Linked DNA regions of Homo sapiens: region 1 is linked to region 2. A link means that fine-mapping ties the variant in region 2 to the expression of a gene that starts in the linked region. Tissue or cell type: whole blood. Region 2 holds a variant in brackets; the other region holds the start of a gene. All regions are shown on one strand. Distances are between the middles of the regions.

The links. PIP is the estimated chance that this variant, and not a neighbour inherited with it, causes the effect.
Region 1: it holds the start of CCDC186, and the variant in region 2 is fine-mapped to the expression of CCDC186 in whole blood (INTERVAL, PIP 0.95).

The regions. Positions count from the first base shown.
Region 1 is chr10:114,170,601-114,177,955 of GRCh38, reverse strand. It overlaps CCDC186 (coiled-coil domain containing 186), which reads left to right and starts at 3,753. Exons shown (of 16, transcript NM_018017.4): 1 at 3,753-3,941. It overlaps MIR2110 (microRNA 2110), which reads left to right and starts at 3,777; the gene lies at 3,777-3,851. It also overlaps a transcript of TDRD1 not described here. RefSeq lists a silencer at 3,418-3,687 and enhancers at 3,748-3,947, 3,543-4,071.
Region 2 is chr10:114,224,517-114,231,871 of GRCh38, reverse strand. TDRD1 (tudor domain containing 1) reads right to left here. Exons shown (of 25, transcript NM_001395205.1): 22 at 5,656-5,823; 23 at 4,573-4,800; 24 at 3,916-3,962; 25 at 1-3,834. The coding sequence ends at 3,742. Among named protein-coding and RNA genes, the nearest start is that of VWA2, 11 kb to the left of the region's middle. The variant C/G (reference allele first, on the strand shown) is at 4,081.

The sequences.
Region 1 (7,355 bases), 54 kb after region 2:
GAAACTAAGGCAGGAGAATCGCCTGCACCCAGGAGGCGGAGGTTTCACCGAGCCAAGATCACTGCCACTGCACTCCAGCCTGGGCAACAGAGCAAGACTGTCTCAAAAAAAAAAAAAAAAAGAAAAAGAAAGAAAGAAAAGAAGGTGCTGTACAGAGTTCTGACAGAAGCCACATCGTTTCCCCTATTATTAGCATGGTCTGTTAGCATGATACATTTGTTATAATTAAGGAACCAAGGAACCAACATTGATACAGTATTAACTAAAGCCCATCTTTTTGATTTCCTTCGTTTTTACCTACTGTCCCTTTTCTGATGCAAGATCTCATCAGGATATCATATTACATTTAGTTTTCATGGATCCTTAGGCTCTTCTTGGCCATGGGACTTCCTTAGACTTTGTTTTGATGACCTTGATGTCAAGTTTCCAGGAGTACTCTCAGGCCTTTTGTAGGATGCCCTACTTTTGGAATTTGTCTGATGTTTTTCTGCTGGTAGGAAAGGAGTTACGGGTTATTGGAAGGAAGACCACAGAGGTAAAAATGCCATTTTTATTGCATCATATCAAGCATACATCCTATGAATATGATTATGACAATTGATGTAGGATTTGGTCATCTGGCTGTGGTAGTGTTTGTTGGGTCTTTCTACTATATTCTTTTTTTTCCCTTCCCTTTTCATACTATACACTTTGGAAGGAAGCTATTATTTGAAGCCCACATTTAAGGAGTAGGGAGTTATGTTGTCCCTCTTTGAGGATGCAGTATCTGCAGAAATTATTTGAAATTCTTCTGCATGGGAGATTTGTCTCTTCTCCATTTACTAATTTAATAACGGACTCGGATATTTATTTTATACTTTTTTTTTCTTATTTTATACTTTTCTAATCCAAAACTACTGTATTTCCTTGCTCAGATTTTTCCAGCTTTGGCCACAGGAAGCTCTTTCAGTTGGTTTCTGTTCCTTCACATACTATCATCAGGTGGTATTTTGTTTGTTAAGCACTTTATTACTTTCTGGGATATTGTATCTTTTCATCCAAAAATATTGTAAGTAGGTGTCTTTAAGAGATTACCACTTTTTAAGTAATATCACCAAAACATATCCCAACTTTAAAAACAATAATTTCTCTTGCTTTCCTTTCTTTTCTCCTTTTTCTCCTTTCCTCTCCTTTCCTTTCTTTCTGAAAGGGTCTTGCTCTGCCGCCCAGACTAGAGTGCAGTGGCACAGTCATAGTTCACTGCAGTCCTGAACTGCTGGACTCAAGCCATCACCCTGCCTCAGTAGCTGGGATTACAAGTGTGAGCCATAGTGCCTGGCCATAATTTCTTAATATCATAAAATTAATACTAAACATTTCCAGATACCTCAAATGTTATTTTTTAATTTTCTTTTTAGAGATGGGATCCCACTGTGTTGTCCAGGCTGGTCTCAAACTCCTGAGCTCAAGCAGCCCACCTTGGCCTCCCAAAGGGCTGGGATTACAGGTGTGAGCCACCACACCCAGCCATTCAGATGTTATCTTAAATCGTTGATATGTTCAAATCAGTATCAAAACATCCTGTATTTGCACTCAGTGATATATTTTAAAAAGGGGTTTCTCTTTAAATCCTGTACTTCTCTTGCAATTTATTTATTACAGTAACTGCAGGGTTTTTTTTTTTTTCCATTCAATTTTGTTGATTGCATCCCCCGGCAGGAATACTTCACAGGTGGTGTTGTGCTTCTCTATTGTAGCATTTCAGAAAATACATAGTATGTAGTTGTTTCACTTTGGAGGATATTAAGATTGATCTAGTAGGTTCAAGTGGTGCCAGCCCCATCCATCCATTACAATACGAAGCTTCCTATCAGTTTTTCATCTAATGGTTCTAGATTCACAGATGACCATTACCTAGATCCATTATTTCATCAGGGTTTGCAAAATGGTGATCATCTATCTTTCTTTCTGCAATTATTACATGGAGTTCTACAGAGAAGAGCTTCCCCACATTGACTATTTGATTGACATTCAGTTTGCAACAGGAAAGGTAGGATGAATGCTTGATTCTTTATCAGTTCTCAGATTGTAATGACTTGTTGGCATCTTTCCAAGAGGGTCAATGACATTAAAAAAAATAAATGCACTCACTGATTTTTTTACATAGTGCGTCTCAACCAGTTGCTGTTATTATTTTTGAATGCTAAATTTGTCCTGTTTGAGAAGTTGGGGCATCTTTGAACTGCCTTCTGAGTCTTTTGGGTACAGTTCATGTTATCTTTGCTTTTCTTCCTTGCTTTCTGCTACAAGCAATATGTCCTAGGCTATCTTGCATATTTCTTGCCCCTACTGGGAATCAGCACTTAACCTCCAAGAGAAGCCAAGGTAACTTTTTTTGGGCAATGCTCTTTAGAGATCACAATCTGGGGAATAGGAGTGTGCAATGGGTTGGTCACTGTTCTAAGAGTTTTCAGTGGACACACCTTTTTTTTCACGAAAAAAATGTACCATGAGTTAATTCTGATATTTGTAAATTCAAATATAGGATTGCAGAATTTTAATATAATGTCTTTGGTTTATATTTGTATTTCTTTTCTCTTATGGTGAAAAACTTGGTTCACAAAGATATATTTATATACTTTATACTAATTATAAATTCAGAAATATTCAGAAATAGTAATACCTATGTTATTACTGACGAGTACCGAAAACAGCTTAAGGTTTCTTCAGTTTTTTCCCCTTGGATTAATGTCTCCCTAGGAAGGCTTGGTCGATTTATTGTTTTAAAGTCAAATCATTTATTTTCTATGACAAGACACTTTAACTGCAAAATGTGCTTCAGTGTAGTACCTTCATTTAAGGAGGAGTGAGGTGCCATTACACCTCCGTGTGTGTGTTTTGCCAACAGTATCGAAGACGCTTAACAGAACAGTAGTAAGTTTTGCTTTACAAATTCTTACATTGCAGAATCGTCTGCATCAGCTATTTTCATTCATGAGATATGTGTAAGACCTAAACCAAAGAACATCGTTTCCCCGGACTGAGGAGGTTTGCGAAACCTCCAGAGACTGAACTGCTGACCTTCCTTCTCTGGGCCGGGCGAGGCAACTGTACCCAATACACTTTTTGTTGCCATGCTGCGTGCCAGGTTACTCAGCCGGGAGAGGACACTTCCTACCATCAATGCGCTCAGCTTGAAGCCAGAGACGAAGGCACCGACAGTTTATTATTAAACAATGGCAGCAGCGCCACGCTGAAGACACGAACGCGCTGTTATGGAACCCCCAGAGGTCTCCCCCATCGTAGCCTGCTCCAGCCGACTCCGCCCACGTAAGGTGCAAGGTTTCCGCATGAGAGCCGGGAAGCCACAATTTCAAATTCTCTTTTATTGCTTTATGTCCCTGACTCATGCAGGCCAAAGGGTGAGGAGGAGTAATAGCCAACAAGAGCGTCCTGCAGAAAGAAACAGGCTGCGTGGGTCCGGAGGAGCTTGAAAGGAAGAACCCGACCAAAGGGCAGGAGACCCGGCTCTCCAGGTCGCGGAGGCGTGGGTGCCCAGCCAGGCGGAGTGCGGGGCGGGGCCTCTCGGGCCGCAAGGTGGGGCCTCCTGGGCCGGGAGGTGGGAGGTGAGCTCCGCCAGCCCAGCCCACTGCAGACAGGTTACCCAGGACCTCAAGGTGTGCTGCGTCACCCCGCCCGCGCTGCGCTGATTGGTTCCTCCAGGGAGCCCCCGCCCCCTCAGCTGTAACCGGGCCGGCTTCAGTGTCGCCGCCATCTTTGTTGATGTGTCAGCTCCGCAGGGGTTTGGGGAAACGGCCGCTGAGTGAGGCGTCGGCTGTGTTTCTCACCGCGGTCTTTTCCTCCCACTCTTGGCTGGTTGGACCCCGCTATGGAAAAGTTGGCCCCTGAGCCAGAGCTCCAGCAGCCTTGTTAGGGCGTGGCCTGAGGCTTGGATAAGTGGGGTAAGTGTCTGAGGGGTACTCGGGGCACACCGGTGAGTCGCGGTGGCGGTGCGGTGGGGCTGCCAGCCTTCCGCTCCTTCCTGCACGTTCCGTGGCGGGGGCGAGGGCGAGTGCGAGGTGGAGGTCGAGGTCGAGCGGGCTCCCCGCCTGGCTCCTTTGAGGGCGCGGAGGAAGGGGAGGGCTGGGGAACGGGTTTCAAGCCCTTTCCTCTCCCTGCCTTCCTCCTTCGGTTCCGGGACCTTGGAGGTGGCAAAGAGGGGTCAGCGGGGGTCGTGGGGGCTGTGCCTCGAGAGCGTCTGAATTCGAGCCCATTGCCTGGGCTGCGTGTGAACTGCAGCCAAGCCCTACCTGCTCGAGAATCTTTCCTAGACTCAATCGCCTATTTCGTTTTTCGTCTCAAGTTGACTGTATGTGGGTGTTTTATATTTACTGTTGTGAAGACTTGTTACCCTCTTCCAAACACTTCCATTACTGTGATTCTAAGTTCCTTAGAAGTGATTCTTTGGAGTGGTGGATACTGTTCTTTATGTTGTCTTTCAAGGACGTCAAGGCATTTCATAAACCTTGGTTGGTAAGGAAGGGGTTTCAGATTTATGTCTCCATCAGTAATGAAAAATGGCAAAAACAAAACAAAAACCCTTCTACGTGTCCCTAAGTAGCAATCTTGGGAAACAGTGCAGGTGTGAGTATTGCTTAGCTGTTAACAGTTTAACAACTTCACCTAATATTCCCATCTTGATTTTGTTTAGAGGAAAAAGTCCTGGATTTCGAGTCAGAACATCTGGATTAGAATCCTACTTCTTTCACTTGATAATCTTGTTACCTGTGGAAATCAGAAGAGAGAATATAGTAAAAATACGCAGTACAGTCCCAGGTACTTGGCCGTTTTCTCTGCATGTGTGTCATGTTCCTTTGATGCCCAGCTTTTTTTTCTTCCAAAACGATAGGCCGGGTGTTGTCTTCTAAGGTGTTCAGTAAATCAGGGTTTCAAGAGGTGTGCTGGTAGTCATTCAGAAGAAATTAATCTGCTATTATCTATTTAGGTATGCTAGTTGTGGGTGTGGCTTTCCCAACTATCAAGTACACCTTAATATTTACCGAGTGTTCATCTCGTGGGAAGGATTCAGGTTCAAGAGAGATTGATAGTGAAACTGAACTATCTCTGTGTGTAATGTACACTGTTCCCTGTGTAACTTCAATTCTTTATCCAACATTACACAAATAAAAAACAGTAATGATTGGCTAGGTTCATTTTTCTCTTTTATTTCTGGTCTTTTCATGTTATTTTTAATGCAGTGAAGATATTAGATCACGAATCTTGCAGTATTAAGAATTAAAACTTTTTACAGCATAATAGGCAAACGTATGATTACTGAAGATTCTCCCTGGAAATGCATGGATTGTGTTTGTTTTTTAAAGGCCCTGTTAAATTCAGAATAACTGCATATAAACTTAAGGTTTCTTTAAACAGTGGAGATTCCATAGTGTGTCATTGGCTTTTGAGTCCTATTTATTGCTAACGGAAAGGGTTGGCTGGTGTGTATCACAGTGACCACTCTAACCTTTTAGTTCTTTCACCCATAAAGTAGAGTTGTCCTTTAATGCTATGCAGTGACAGCATAGCTAATGATTGCTTAGTATGTTCAGTTTAGAAACATCTATTTGCAGCTTTATGCTGACATCACAGAGTGAAGATAAAAGCATTGCAGTATACTGACTCCAGGAAGAGACAGTAGGTTGAAGCACAAAGCAGCTTTATTTGGAGATTTAGAAAATAATCTTTCCCTTTGAAGAAGGACTGGTAATCTGCACTAGTTTCTCAAATTCATGCAACAGTTTCGTGTTAAAGTAAGAATCCTTACCCTGAAATTTTTTTTCTTTTAGTAAAACTTAGGTTTTTCTTTTATCTCTACCTTAAAATAACTAAAGCTGGTTTTTCAATTTCTCATAAACATATCACTGAGTTTACAGTATTGCAAATGTTATACTTAGTATTCATTTTAGGGGCAGCAGTGAGATCATAGATAATTTAATCTATTGTTTCAAACTGCTTTGAACTTTCTTAGCTACTGAGATTTAAAAAATGTATTTGGGCTAAAAAGTAAGAAAAAGGAAAAATACTGAGATGAAGGGACAGTAGACACAAAGTGGAAATCAGCACCAGCATAGTTTTGATTGGATTGTGAGTGTATTTCTTATTAACATTTGTCTATCATTAAGACACTTGAACTGATAATTGTGGGATTATGTAGACTATGTAATGTCTACCGCACTTACTACATAATCCCACGGTAGACTATCAGTTCATGTTTTTAATAAAGTAGAGCATACCAAATTAACCAACTCTGGCCAAAGGTGTCTTCAAAATTTAAACATTAACCCAAACTTTTTAATGTAATGCAGGCTTATAACTTGAAAAAAAATTTTTTTTAAAGATACTAGGCTTCATTTTGTTTAGTTTTTTGAGACAAGATCTCAATCTGTCACCCAGGCTGGAGTATAGTGGTATGATCATAATTCACTGTAGCCTTGAACTCCTGGTCTCAAGCAATCCTCCTGCCTTAGCCTCCTGAGTAGCTAGGACAACAGGCACAGGCCACCATACTAATCTTTTTAATTAAAAATTATATATTATTATTTTTTATAGACCAGGTCTTGCTATGTTTCCCAGGCTGTTCTCTTAATTCCTGGCCTCATTTGATCCTCCCATCTAGGCCTCCCAAAGTGCTGGGATTACAGGTGTGAGCCACCTGTAAAGGAAGGCCTGAGAGCCTTCCTTTTTGAAAAAGGAACTATAGGTCAGATTTTTTTTTACCTACTTTATTCCTTTTCAGATTTGGAGGAAAATTAGCTGATAATACTTTTCATGTTTTCTTAGACTCATTAAAGTGCAAGTGCAATCTTCAAATTAGATTTCTGTATTAGTAGGAAGTCATTTCTGATAACTTTCTGCTTTAGTATTTTAAAGTATTTATAGGAGACATGTAAAATTACCGAGCTGATATGACATATATGGTGTAACTTGATAAGGTGAACTATGATGTGGCCACTGACCCTCTTTTTCATGGAATTTTGATGGACCATAATTTCTCTTTGTCCTGTTATCCTATCACAGGATTTGGTACTATTTGGGAGTTGGTGGAGGGTGGGGGGGTCTTGCCGCATCTATTGCTCAAGTCTTTTTTTTTAAACATCTTTGTGTGTGTGTGTGTGATATAATGCACATATCATAAAGTTCTTGCCCTGAGTCTGGATTGTAAAGCTAAACATACCCCCACAGGGATAAATAACCTTGGTCTCATAAAACAAACTTTTCAAACTGGTGAACTAAAGGAAACTTTTTTATTCTAATGCTGTTTCACTTAAACTCAGTATATTACAGTTAAATTTGTGCCAACCATGGTGGCTCACATC
Region 2 (7,355 bases):
GCCTCAAGGGATCCTCCCACCTCAGCCTCCCAAAGTGCTGGGCGTGAGCCACTGCACCTGGCCTTCCTTCGGTACCTTTAAGTAATAAAAAGTTACATATATAGCAGAAAGTCCCTATGTATTCCTTGCCAGTATTCTCATTGATTTGGTATGAATTTTTTACGTAATATTTATTTGGTGGAAGGAACTTAGAGGAAAATAAAAACCACCAACCTAATAGGAGAATGGCAGGCAGGCAAAAACGGAGGGATAGAAGGTCATTACAGAGAAAGTGGACAAAGAAAAGGTTCTCATAAATAAAAACACCAGGTGCTGTACTTTCTCTCCTAAAGCTAGCCTTTGCTGTTTCCTGTCTCATAAGGGTTTACCTCCAAGAGATGCTGTTTCTGAAAAAGAAAAAAAATCAACTATCATTATGCCTTACACAAAAACTCAATTGCTATGGCTTTTAATTTCAAATACAAGCAAACAAAATATTCACTTTTAACTGAAATTACGCATTTAAGCCAGACCTGTCAGTTAAGAAAATTAATGACCACCATAACATAGCATAATATATGCTAAGTACAGCTGTTTATACTCCCCTTCACAAATATAACATATAGTTGTTTGCACTCTCCTTATATATAAAAGATATCTGACATTAACTTGTGTGTTGAAACATCACCTGAGCAACAGATTACAGAGGGTTTTATGTTCATATCACCACAGCACTTCTGTTTTAGCAATTTTACAATTAAATTGCTAACAATTAAATTTCTCCAGATGATGAAATACATGTGTTTGTCTTTTATTTTATTTTTTTGAGACAGGGTCTCACTCTGTTGCCCAAGCTGGAGTGCAGTGGTGCCATCTCGGCTCACTGCAACCTTCGGCTCCTGGGTTCAAGCAATTCTCCTGCCTCAGCCTCCCCAGTAGCTGGGACTACAGGTGCACGCCACCTCACCTGGCTAATTCTATATTTTTTTTGGTAGAGACAAAGTTTCACCATGTTGGCCAGGATGGTCTCAAACTCCTGGGCCTCATGTGACCTGCCCTCCTCAGCCTCCCAAAAGTGCTGGGATTACAGGCCTGAGCCACCATGCCCAGCCAAAATACATTTTTACACCCATTCTATCTCAAAGAATAATTTAAAGGAGTAAATATTCAGCTCTATTTTCACCACAATGAAGTAATGCTTAAGCAATCATGTACATTATTTTTTCCTAATAATGTAACCCTCTAGTTTCATGCCCTATGTAACTGATCTGATCTAAAAGGATACTGTACACGTAGCAGCTCAGGGAAGTTGACACAACTGTTTTAAGTCGTAAGACCTAGTGTTTCAGCCTGTATGTGATTTTGGACAGTCATGTAACCCTCTCTGAGCCTCAGCTTCCTTAACTGTAAAATGGGTCCTACTTTCTTTTCAAGGGCATTGTGAAGATTAAGTATGTGAGTAGATGTAAAAATGCTTTGTAAATACGTACTACCCAAACACAAGGTATTGCACTGTATTCAAATGTAAATAAAATATCTATTTATTCCCACAGTCAGGAAAAATCCAGTTCAACTACTATGCTTTAAATCAAGTTTTCTTTTGAAAGCTACTAAGCCCTGTCTTAAATCTATCAAGAAACAATGAAATTTCACTTTAAGTTTTATGTGTAAGCACACTCAATATCCTTAGGAAAAATGCCTGTTACACAGATAAGAAGAACATACAGGCCAACCAACTTGGTTAAAAATGTAATGACTTGGTGGCCGGGCGCAGTGGCTCACGCCTGTAATCCCAGCACTTTGGGAGGCCGAGGAGGGCAGATCACGAGGTCAGGAGATCGAGACCATCCTGGCTAACACGGTGAAACCCTGTCTCTACTAAAAATACAAAAAGATTAGCTGGGTGTGGTGGCGGGCACCTATAGTCCCAGCTACTTGGGAAGCTGAGGCAGGAGAATGGCATGAACCCGGGAGGCGGAGGTTGTAGTGAGCTGAGATAGCGCCACTGCACTCCAGCCTGGACAACAGAGCGAGACTGTCTCAAAAAAAAATAAAAATAAAAAATAAAAAAAAAATATATATATATATAGTGACTTGATACTAGGACTAAATTCCAGAAATCCATGTCATTGCATGTTCCTTGATCTATGAAATTAAAATCACCATTAAGTTTAAGATTAGCCGGGTGTGGCAGTGTGCGCCTGTAGTCCCAGCTACTTGGGAGGCTGATGTGGGAGAATTGCGTGAACCTGGGAGGTGGAGCTTGCAGTGAGCCGAGATCACGCCATTGCACTCCAGCCTGGGTGACAGAGCAAGACTCCGTCTCCAAAAAAAAAAAAAAAAAAGATTAAAAGATTTTAAGCTTAAACATACAAAACAGTCAGTATTAAGACAATGTATTAGAAAGGACTGAAAGTTGTAATAACCCAAAATTTGTAAAAGGAAACATGAGAGTCAAGATAGTTGATCTTGCATTAATTACATTTAGCTTATAATTCAATTGACCTTTCTTAAAACGCAAAGAAACGGTCTATTACCACATGAAAGATATGTTTTAACACAGTTGGCAGTTGGTTCCTACTTGAGAGTTACTACACCCATAAAAGATTCATGAAGAGTATTATAGCCACCTCTTGAACTATTTCCAAACAGTTTAATATAAATTTGTTAACCAACAAAAGTGCACATATTAAGTAAATCAAAGTTCCTTTGCTTTTGGCTGGAACTGTAACAACTCAAAGTGGTGAGGAGAGACAACTTTATTCTGAGATTAGAGGTTGTTTTTTTTTTTGTTTTGTTTTGTTTTGTTTTTGAGACAAACTCTCACTCTGTCACCCAGGCTGGAGTATAATAGCAGTCTTGGCTCACTGCAACCGCCGCCTCCTGGATTCAAGCGATTCTCCTGTCTCAGCCTCCCAAGTAGCTGGGTTAACAGGTGTGCACCACCATGCCCAGCTAATTTTGTATTTTAAGTAGAGGCAGTGTTTCGCCATCTTGGCCAGGCTGACTTCGAACGCCTGGGCTCAGGTGATCTGCCCGCCTCAGCCTCCCAAAGTGCTGGGATTACAGGCGTGAGCCACCACCCCCAGCCCTGATCAGAAGTTCTAATTGGCTCTTAATCAAAAATTTATTTCTGAGAACCATCTTACAACAAAGGATCCCAGACATTTAAAATATGGGGGTGGGGTGGGGAGGAACACTGGTTTAAAACTCACCAGTATGTTCTTTAGACACTAGAATCACCACAGCCAAAAGCAGGGAGTATGTTTTGTTTTTAAATGAAAAATACCCTCAGTGCAGCCCACTTTCCGTTCTTGGCCCTTTAGATCCACTTTCCGTTCTTGGCCCTTTAGATACCCCTCGCAAAAAGTGCTAAACATATTTACAGCAATGTGCATAAGTGAGCTCTGAGTTAATTTCAGATCTAGACAAAAAATCTGAGGCTAAGCTTTATGTCACAACAAGTTTTACAAGTCCCTCCACATATCAATAACATAGGCATTCACAGAACCAAACAACAGTAAGGAAAGGCTATTACAACTGGAATACCCCTGGGGGTTCAGTTCCATTAGCAGTAGCAAAGGAAAACGATCAGATAAACCTACAAAAACAGCAGAAGCATTATGACCAAACCTCAGGTCATTAAATCACGAAAGTACAGCCTTACAATAGGTTTCACTCCATTAGCTCTATCCTGCCAATATGCCTGAAGATGTCCTATTGGTGATCACAGAAGAGGCGAAAACATACGATTTAACTTACTTAACTTTTTAACAGTTTTTTCATTTCAATAAATTTATTTTGATTGGTTGAATTGTTTAAGAGGAAGAGAAGAATATGTTCATGTTTTTCAACCTGTGGGTGAAAAAGAAACCATATGATTTAATTTCTAAAAACGTTAGGAGTATAATTTCACTTAAAGGAAATTTTACCTACTTGTTTCTGTAACTCTGTGCAGCAGCAATTCATCCTATACATCTTTTCTAAAAGCACAAGAAAAATAAGCCATTAGATAACACATAATGTAAAGAAGAAAAACTTGGGAGTGTAAACATATACAGATAGCTCTCCCCCTTGCGCATGGGTTCCGACTACAAAGAC[C/G]TGGATGGATCCATTTGGGCTTTGAGATTATCTACTACCATGGTCTGGATTTGACCACATTAACAACCCATGTCTCCAAGGTTTTGGTTGTCAATCATCTCTCTTTTTGATTGAGGCCAGGTCTGTCAAATATACATCTTATGAAGTACCAGGAAGATGGAATCTCAAAAATATGACTTCTCAGTTTGATCAGGATAGAAAGTAAATTGGAAATAAGAAGCACGCAGAATGCCTGGCATTTTCAAAGCTCTTGGTGTCAATTCCCACAGCAGTGCTGACAAGTCTGATCTAAGGACTATCTGGACTCGGAGGACTGCCTCCATCAAGGCGGCCCTCCCAGGCAGCCACAGGAATCAGAACCCTGCCACTGGATTTGTGGAGGAGGAGGAGAGAGTATGGCATGGGAAGTGAGAAAAGGTCAAGTCAACTAAATTGATTATCTGTTATTCCTCACACTTAACATCTGTTATTAATAACACTTGAAAAGAATACCTGTATTTAAAGCACTCTGCCTTTGAGGTGTGATGTTTTTTGCCAGACCAAATGTCACTAGCTTATCAGCTACATCGACAGTCCCATTCTCAGAACATTTCTCAACTGACACTGTATGGACATTCTTTGTAATTCCTTTCACAGAAAGCATTACATTCTGATTCAACATGAAATTTTTTAATAGCATTATTATTAATTGAGAAGAGCTTCCATTCAATTCCATTAATCCTGGAAAAAATAGATATTATAGTCTTTTAGTCCCTTTTAAAAAGACAGAATTTAGATAAATTATCTAAGAATAATAAGCAAAAGGCTTACTGGACTTCAGCTGGATTTAGGTGTGTTCTGATGTACTACTGCTGTTGCATTACAAAAGACAAATTTATTCAATACATATTGATTGATCACCTAACAAGGCATCAAGCACTAATCTTGGACTAGAGGGCACGAAACAGACACATCTGTCCTTCATATATTCCAACAGGAGAAACAAAGATAATTTTCCAACTCTGAGTCAAAACCTAAGAGGACCATGAAGCAATCGGTATGGTATTATCTGCAAGTCCTCTGCATAAGGACATCAGGAGCGACAGTAAAAAGCTACTTTAAGTATTTTTGTTCACTTTGTTCAAATTCCAACTAAGGAGTTGAATATATGCAGATTTATCTTTCATAAGGTAGCCAAAAATGGTGTCATGTGAATGCCTTTAGTCCCTAAAGAGAGATGTGACGAAGCAGAAAGACCCCAAATGAGAGGTCAGACACCCTGGTTCACAGACACCAGACACCCTGTTTCACATCCTGGCCTTGCCACTTACTAGCTTAGCAACCAGGGGCAAAACCGAATCTCTGAACCCTGGCCCTCTGAAACTAATCTACAAAACAAAGACTGACTGAACACAGTTTTTGTGAGAATTCGATAAAGAATAAAGAATATGAAACTTATTTGAAAACTCTTAATATTTAAAAACATTAAGGCAGTTACTGGAAATACCCATTTGATTCCGACTTAGAGCTATGAAACATAAAGAGGAAAAAAAAAATACCCAGAAACCTAAATTGGAAAGTGACTTAGCTGTCTACCTTCAAGTGAACATCTAATAATTTGGAAAGGAAGCGCCAGGTGGCTAGAGGTGATTGGTTGCACTCTGCAAAGAGGCAGGGTTTCAATGTTTCCATAGTCTGCATAGAGCACTTCCACATCAGTGTCTGATGTCCCCAGAACAACTGCACGATACCAAAAATCATCACCTGAAAACAGAATGAAATCTCAGGTAAGAACTTACAGTCAGTGATTCCTCCTACTTTAAGATGGCTATTCATAGTTATATTTACATCACTTAAAAATCCATGCCAAAATTTCTGGTTACAGTTCAAATTAAATACAAGCATTTACCTCTACATTCCTATGAAAAATGTAATAGAATTTTTTTTTTTTTTTTTGAGACAGGGTCTGGCTCTGCAGCCCAGGCTGGAGTGCAGTGGCACAATCTTGGCTCGCTGCAACCTCCACCTCCCAGACTCAAGTGATCCTCTCACCTCAGCTTCTTGAGTAGCTGGGAATACAGGTATACACCACCATGCCCAGCTAACTTTTTATTCTTGGTAGAGATAGTCTTGCCATGCTGCCAAGGCTGGTCTTGAACTCCTGAATTCAAGCTATCCTACTGCCTCAGCCTCCGAAAGTGATGGGATTACAGGCGTGAGCCACTGTACCCGGCCAGATTTTTTTTTTTTTTTTAAATGCGTAGAATAGAGTAGAGAACAAGAGAAAAGACAACAGAATATTGGAAGCTGGAAAGCAGATGCCTGAATGAAAATGATTTAGTAGAGCCATGGTAGCTCAACCAAAGTTGGCAGTGGGGAAGCCAAGAAGCATCCCAGCTTGCATCACAAATCCCCAACCCCTGAAGTCTCAACGATTGGTGCTGCTCATTCAAAAGCAGGAGTTAAGATGGAGTTGGAAATGAAGATTGGCCAAGGAAGCAGAGTTACTTGCAAAGACATCTGAATAGGCTTTGGTTCATACACTCATTTGCATATAACACCTATTTTTAAAGTTGCTAAAGAGAATGGTGAGCTTTGTGTTCCCATGTTTTAATAATGCTGCTACTTGAGGGCAGAAGACTGGAGGTTTCCTCTCCTGAGAGAATGAACCACAGAGGGCATGGACTGGAGAACGTGAGGCAGAGTAGACAAGGGAGAGTTTAACACTGGCAGGCAAGCTGTGCACTCCAGGCAGGAGGCCACCAGTCCATGTGACAGCCCATCAAGATGGCGACACTGGGAGTCTGCAGTGAGATGGCAGAGCCAGATCACCCACAGTGAAGGCCATCAGTGGAAAAGCCCCTGCCCACTCTCAAAGCAACTTCCCAGTAACTTCTCAGTGCCCCATCTTAAATACAGGAACAGCATAGGATCACCAGAGATTTGCAGAAAGCCTCTAACATCACAGAGGAGACCAAAACAAAACAGGACCTTAGGGAAACCAAGGCAGAAAACCAAGGAGGAATATGACAATGAACATTAGAAGACTGACAGTAATATCCTTGGAGAAATGACATTCCACTCTTGAAAGAACAGGGTAGTATTAAAACACATAAACATGAAAAACAAAACAAAAAAAGCTATTGAAATTAAAAATGTGATAGAAATGAAAACCTAAATTTAAAAAGTTGGAAGGTGAAATTGAGGAAATCTCTTTAAGAACAAAAAAGATGAAAGAGAGAAGAGGACATTTAGCAGAGTTCAAATTCAGCATTAGAAGACTTGAAGCTCCTAAC